Homo sapiens: one gene and its partner. The protein of the gene in region 2 purifies or fractionates together with the protein of the main gene of each other region. This does not show direct contact. Each region holds a gene or a part of one and is shown on either strand. Other genes may lie near its edges.

Region 1 (3,500 bases), on a different chromosome or scaffold from region 2:
AAGAAGACAGAATTTGCAAATGGAAATGGCGTAAAGGACTTCCATTTTTCACTTCTGAACTTGCTTCATATATTAAACAATAAGTATATCTCGCTTTTCCAAAATATTCGAGAAAAAAGTAAAATGTCAATATTTACCTTAAAGTGATAAATCTTGAATTCATCTGTATACTATATAGACTAACCTTCCTCTAAATCATAAGTAAATACGTAAATTAGTTAAATTAAAAAAAAAAACCTACCTTTAACAATTTTACTGCACAAATTAAATTGTCATCCATAGGATTAGAAAACAGGGCATTCAGCAATTCTCGAAGACCAACCTGAAGAATATCTGCTCTTGTAACCTGTCCATTTGTTCCCTTGATCTTTCGGGACCAAAAAAAAGAACAAAAGGAATGATGCCAAAATATAATACAGATACATAAATGAACTAACAAGGTGTTGGCAAAATAAGCATTTTAGCTAAATCACAAAAGTCACAGGAACACACTCTGATATCTTCACAGAATTTGTTAGAATTACTTTATATGTAACTAAGACCTCTAATAAAACTGGTAAGCTATGGGTAAAATTTAATACCAGAGTCAGCATAATTTAAGCCCACTTTGATGTTACTACTTCATAAAGCTTTCTTTAGTTTGTTCAACTACCACTTTTTTTTGAACACACAGCATTTTATTCTGCTTTTAAAATATTTTAAAATATGGTATTTTGCATCAGAGTGGTATATGTATCTTATATCACTGTGTAGAAGAATTTTAGGTGCAGGAACTAAGCCTTATCTTTACATCCCCCATTGACCTAGCATCATTATCTCCATATAGAAAATGCTCAACAGTATTTATTTTAGATTGCTGTCCATATTTTGGCTTAAACAAAAATTAGACTGAAAAAGAACATGGCATAAGATTTTTCAAAAAACTAAGTCTACCTGTGGTAAAAAGGCATAGTAAGTTAGGCTCTGGACTGGACATAGACCTTTTAGATACAATGACTGAGATGCACATTTGATAGATTCACATTGTCTTATGATGTTTCTGATATTATGGCGTTTACGATCTTAAGTTCTCAAATCAGGGTGTAAGAAGGTATAAGCTTATATCTGATATTCACTAATTTAAAAAATCAAGCAGAGGCTGGGCATGGTGGCTCATGCCTGTAATCCCAGCACTCTGGGAGGCTGAGGCGGGTAGCACCTGAGGTCAGGAGTTTGAGACCAGCGTGGCCAACATGGTGAAACCCCATCTCTGCTAAAAATATAAACATTAGCCAGGCATAGTGGTACGTGCCTGTAATCCCAGCTGCTCAGAAGGCTGAAGCAGGAGAATCGCTTGAACCCGGGAGGCGGAGGTTGTAGTGAGCCGAGATCACGTCACTGCACTCCAGCCTGGGTGACAGAGCGAGACTGTCCCCACCCAAAAAAAAAAAAAAAAAAAAAAAATCAAGCAAATCTATTACACAGTAATAATGCCGTGCTGAATCCAGCACTTCTATTGCCTACTAACAAGCATATACTTAAGTATACCACCCAAATTTATAAATACGTTTAGCTGTAGACTTTGTACAAATGCATTTTTATGTGGAAGATTAATATATAAAATAGGACAAAAAAGAACTATTCTTAGGGGTTGGGGTATTGGGGAGATGTTGGTCAAAGGACACAGAATTTCATTTAGGGGGAATAAGTTCAAGAGATCTCTTGTACACCATGATGACTATAGTTAACAATATATTGTATACATGAAAACTGCTAAAAATTTTAAGTGTTCTTAACACAAAAAAGTATGTCAAGTAATGCATATGTTAAATAGCTTGATTTAGCCATTCTACGATGTATGCATATATCAAAGTGTTGTGTACCATAAAGATATAATTTTTGTCAATTAAAAAAATATTTTTAAAAAACTATTTGGGTGAATTAGAGTGAAAAGCCTAGAGAGACTCTAGTCTCTCTTTTCACTCAGAGTTCTGCAGAGTAAACTGCTTTGAGCCACCATCTGAAAGTCAACATACTAAATGTATTAATATATAAGATGTAAGAACTCAAAAAGGTATCACTGTTGATATCTCAAGAACTTAAATTTGCATGTAAACCACAGCTTCCTAAAAGTACGCAGATTTTTACCTCAGTAATTATTTCCTAACATTCTGTCCATGAGTAAATGTTATGGACAGACGGTCCAGTAAACCACAGACACTAGCAGGTGCCGAAACATGTTTTCTTTCCTCTCTCTTTCATTTCACTCTTAATGTTGTAAAAGTACAATGTGAACACAAATTCCTCATTGAGATCAACTTATGTTCTCAGGCCTTGTTAGTACTTAACAAAAGAAAAACTTCTCACCTCCAGGTTAAGATAAAGTTCTCCCAGAAAGAGTACAAATGCATGAAATCGTTTTCGAGTAACTTCATCCCCTTTTGCAGCTTGATCTTTAACTTCATATTCAGTCCGACATCTAATTAAAGACATATCTTTTATAATCTCACATTGCTTTGCTTTTTAAATAGTCAAACAAAATAACCATTTGTCAGTTTGGTTGTCCACAGCAAGAGGCAAGGACAATGTCCCAATGCTCTTTCTACAATAAAGAAACTGTTCCTGACTATTGAAGAGGCTAGAATATACACCATCTTTTCATACTAAGTCTCCCAGTTTGAAAAAACTGATAGTTTTATTTTCAACGATTTTTATCAAATTTAATATGTTTAAGCAACATAGGTGTAATCTGATTCACAGCATACTGGCAGCCCAAAGAGGGGAGAGAGAGCCTCACCTTGTCTTATAGGTTTTTTACTAAGAAAGCACTGATTTTACCCAAATTGTCTCTGTAATTTTTTTTTTAATACTACAACTTTGAAAAGGATCTTTAAATACACACACACACACACACACACACACACACACACAACCTCCAACTGAAAATAAAATGAATTGTTTTTAAGTCCATTATTCTTGTAATTTCCATTATACGTATCAGAGAAGTACTAATGTGAGGAAAAAATTCCCCCATTAAAACCACAATATAGAAAGCACCGGACTTGTTTTCTATTTCCAATGAGACTGACAGCTTCAAATAACTGATTTTTCCTTGCTCTCTTTGCCCCTGACTTGACCCATTTGCTTCACACAGAGGAGAAAAAGAAGAAATCCTCTTCTTGGAGCTTATTGTCAGTCATAGTTCCTACAAGGTAACTAAACTAGGCACAATAATCCTGTCACTGCCTTCATAAGTGAACTACAGTGTCAGATATTGTTACTAACATAGATTTTTTAAATGGACTGTAAAAGTTTATCATTTTGTTATTAAGTATTTGTAATCTTTATTGATAAGGTGAGAAAACTCTGGGAAAGTAACTTGCTTCACAAAACTGGTTTTGACAGTTTTCCTTTTCAAGACAAAGGGAAAAGCTATGGGTACTGAATGGTTTCCACGCAGCCAGTTTAGGTTGACTTTGTAAACAATTTTTAACAAAGAAAAAATAAATTACCTCTTGTTC
Region 2 (3,500 bases):
ATAGTCAAATGCCAACAGTTAATTAAATGCTCTAAGAAATCTCAAAATACATATACCACAAGGAAAACAGATACTTTAAAGCTAACAAGTGTGCTTTTTAATTGTGCGTAACTGTTATATTCATACCTTGAAGTAGTCATCTTGAGTAACAACAGAGTTTCTCAGTCTGTTCTCTGGATTAAACAGACAAGATACCACCGTTTGTATGCTTCGGTCCACAGATTTCTGAAACACAGAAGTTTTCAGTAATGTAAAGACGACTCTTTCACTCACTCTTAGTAAGGGTTTTTTTTTGATAGTTTAATGAATATATTACTTTATTTCTAAAGAAATGCAAAAAATGCTAAAAGAGACTGGGAGTGGTGGCTCACGCCTGTAATCCCAGCACTTTAGGAGGCCAAGGCAGGAGGATTCCTGCCTCCTCCTGAGGTCAGGAATTCAAGACCAGCCTGGCCAATATGGTGAAACCCCATCTCTACTAAAAAAATACAAATATCAGCTGGGCATAGTGGCGGGTGCCTGTAATCTCAGCTACTCAGGAGGCTGAGGCAGGGAGAATTGCTTGAATCCAGGAGGTGGAAATTGCAGTGAGCCAAGATCACACCACTGCACTCCAGCCTGGGCAACACAGCGAGACTCTGTCTTGGGGAAAAAAAAAAAAAAAGAAATTCATAAAAATGTGATTCATAATTCTTACCACGTATCACTCAATATGCAAGTTTTCTGACAAAGATTTTAGAACCTTAGTGATAGAATACTGGTTTAAAAAGCTGAATTTGTTAAATCCCTAAGTGAACTCCAATGTTTCAAGAAAAAATATTCAGGACAAAACCTGAAAATTACACTGTAAGCTATTTTAATATTTATTCGCATTTTAAAATCGAGTATCAAATCAAGGAATTTACACTCCAATGGGACTTCAGTGTTATACATATTACCAACACATCAACTACTTCTACACTCCCGCTCATTTAAGAGAACATATGTGATTCAAGAGTGATAGTATTATTATGGAAATTTGCTCTAATGATAAAAAGAAGAAAGAACCCTGCCTAATTCAATATTTGAATAATTATTACTGACTTCACCACTGTTGGGAACTACTGCCATATATAATGTTACAGAGAGAATGCCGTAAGTAATGTGTTTCACTGTTTAAGTAAATATCAAAATTATAAAAGAAAAGGTACATGTAATTCGTACCAATTCCTCTTTTGAAGAGTAGAATTCTTGAGGAAACCTTCCCATAACATTCTGCCAAATCCTATTAATATAGTATTTATTGAAGTATGGTTTTTAAAAATTAGTGGAACTGGAATATAGGAAAGGACTGCTGAATCAGAAACTTTATGTATACATTGAAAATTTGGGCTATCTGAAATTTCACCAACCTTTACATTAACTGCTGAATATTAGTCAATTATTTAAGATCTATAATTTATGGCTCCTATCTTGCCCAGGGTGGTCTCGAACTCCTGAGCTCAAGCAATCCACCCATCTCAGCCCCAAAAAGTGCTGGGATTACAGGCGTGAGCCACTGCACCCAGCCAAGATCTGCTTTCTGTATCTAAAATTTTCTTTTACTATTTGGTCAAGCCAGTCAACTAACTCTTCTCTAGTTAACCTTTTCAATTACAAATTTCTGCTGAAGGATGATTGCTTCTCAAAAAACCATTATTAAAACTAGAAAAAATAAATATGAAATATATATAAACAAAATTAGATGTTTGCCTTTTGTGGGCCATTTCCAGAGGGTGGAGTAGCTTCATGAACTGAACATTCATTTGGCACAACTTCAGCTCCTGGATCAACTTCATTACAGTGGTAGTTAACAGCTGAATAAGCCTATATTTAAAATAATGAAAGTGTAATTAAACAGATATACAGATATATTTAAAAGCCACTTATTCTTCAAAAAGCTAAGCTGGTATCAAAAGTTTCAATGTAGGTTGTGTTGAAATTCAATTATATTATTTCAAAAACTTTGTTTTAAATGAACAGTTGAAATACAGTAAGGCAGCCTTCTGTTTTAGAATGTCTTTAAGGCATCAACATAATCAGAAGTAGAAGAACTCTAAGAAACTAATGTAGTAAGAGAGTGTTTGAGAATTTTAACACTTATTATATCCTTCAAATTTCCAATCCTGATAAAAGACAGCAGCTTGGGTGTTTTAGACGTAATACTCTTGTTTTATTCCTATTTTTATTTAACAGTAATTAACAGCAAAACATTTCTGTTCCTCTTCAACAGTTTTTTTTATGGCTGGTAAAGCCAGAGGCAGAGTCTAGGCAGATACATGCTAATTCTAAAGCCACATTAATACTACCTTTCCTGAATTATATAGTCTATCAACAAGTAACTGAACACTTATCATTATGTGGACCAGCCATTGCTTAAGCACACAAAAACCTGAGAGAAGAAGGCACTGTTGCTCCCATGGGAGTTTCTAACTGGGTTAAAAAGAAAGTAACAAAATGTAACACATTAATACAAAAAACTATTTAAAAATATAGGCATATATGACATGGAAAACAATCAAGAAATATAGTTAAACAAAAAAAAATACTTTAAAATAACAGGAATTATATGTTTGGCTAATTCACTTTACCGGAGGTACAACATAGCTCCTTTGCTCCCCAACAGGCCACTGTGGTGGCATCTTAAAAAAAAAAAAAAGGAAACCAAAATTATTCAAATATTCCTACAAATTTTCAAAAACACACGAGATACACAATATTGAAGTACTTATCATGCTGGCTCCTTTGTTGTTATAATAAAAGAAACAGAATGAAAAAAAAGTACTTTATGTTTCTAATCCCTGATGTTCTTGTTACTTCCATATATAAAACCTCACCTTTTTCCCAATTTTCTGGAGTTGGCATTGTGGAAATCTCAGAGATATTAGTTCCTTGAATTTATTACCATAGATATGATTATGGGTCACAGATACAGTCATATCTATGTAAAGAGTCTCAAAGAACTACTATCATGAAGCAGTCAGCTAAAATAAAAATACAATTTGAATTCTGTGCTCTAAGAATTGGATAATTTTATTTCACTCTATCTCCCTAAAAAATTGATGAAAGTCCGTCTGGCTGTTTCGGCTATTTGACAGCAAAGATGAAAAAATACATGCTGAAATACAGAAGGGGACACCGAATCTCATAAAACTGTTGTAGAGAAAAGTTATTGCTAAGTATATCCCTGTCAAAATATTATTCCATTACTTCTAAATAATAAAGAGGTCTTAATTCTAGACTAATTTTTTTCTTAAATTTTAGGTACATTTCACTAGTTTAAAATGACAAACCATTCAGACAATTTGTATAAACAAGTTAAAGGCCTCAATAAAATCTGAAAGTAAATCATTTTACTCCCTTTTAAATTACCTGATAATTATATACAGGCAACTGATATCCAGTGATGACCTGAACTGGTGAATTTGGGTAAGTAGGATATGCCTGAAAATCAAGTTTACAGAAAGAATGAATAATATAAA

What was found. Proteins that work in one complex are often made in the same cells at the same time.
Region 1: the proteins of DAZL (region 2) and PAIP1 purify together in Homo sapiens (affinity purification with mass spectrometry; one large-scale study listed by BioGRID and IntAct). This does not show direct contact.

What each region holds. Positions count from the first base shown.
Region 1 is NC_000005.10:43,536,578-43,540,077, forward strand, and holds part of PAIP1 (polyadenylate-binding protein-interacting protein 1), read right to left. Parts: intron 2,459-3,500; coding exon 2,347-2,458; intron 368-2,346; coding exon 242-367; intron 1-241. UniProt on the Homo sapiens protein: Acts as a coactivator in the regulation of translation initiation of poly(A)-containing mRNAs. Its stimulatory activity on translation is mediated via its action on PABPC1. Competes with PAIP2 for binding to PABPC1.
Region 2 is NC_000003.12:16,591,924-16,595,423, forward strand, and holds part of DAZL (deleted in azoospermia-like), read right to left. Parts: intron 3,463-3,500; coding exon 3,391-3,462; intron 2,661-3,390; coding exon 2,610-2,660; intron 1,846-2,609; coding exon 1,732-1,845; intron 226-1,731; coding exon 127-225; intron 1-126. UniProt on the Homo sapiens protein: RNA-binding protein, which is essential for gametogenesis in both males and females. Plays a central role during spermatogenesis.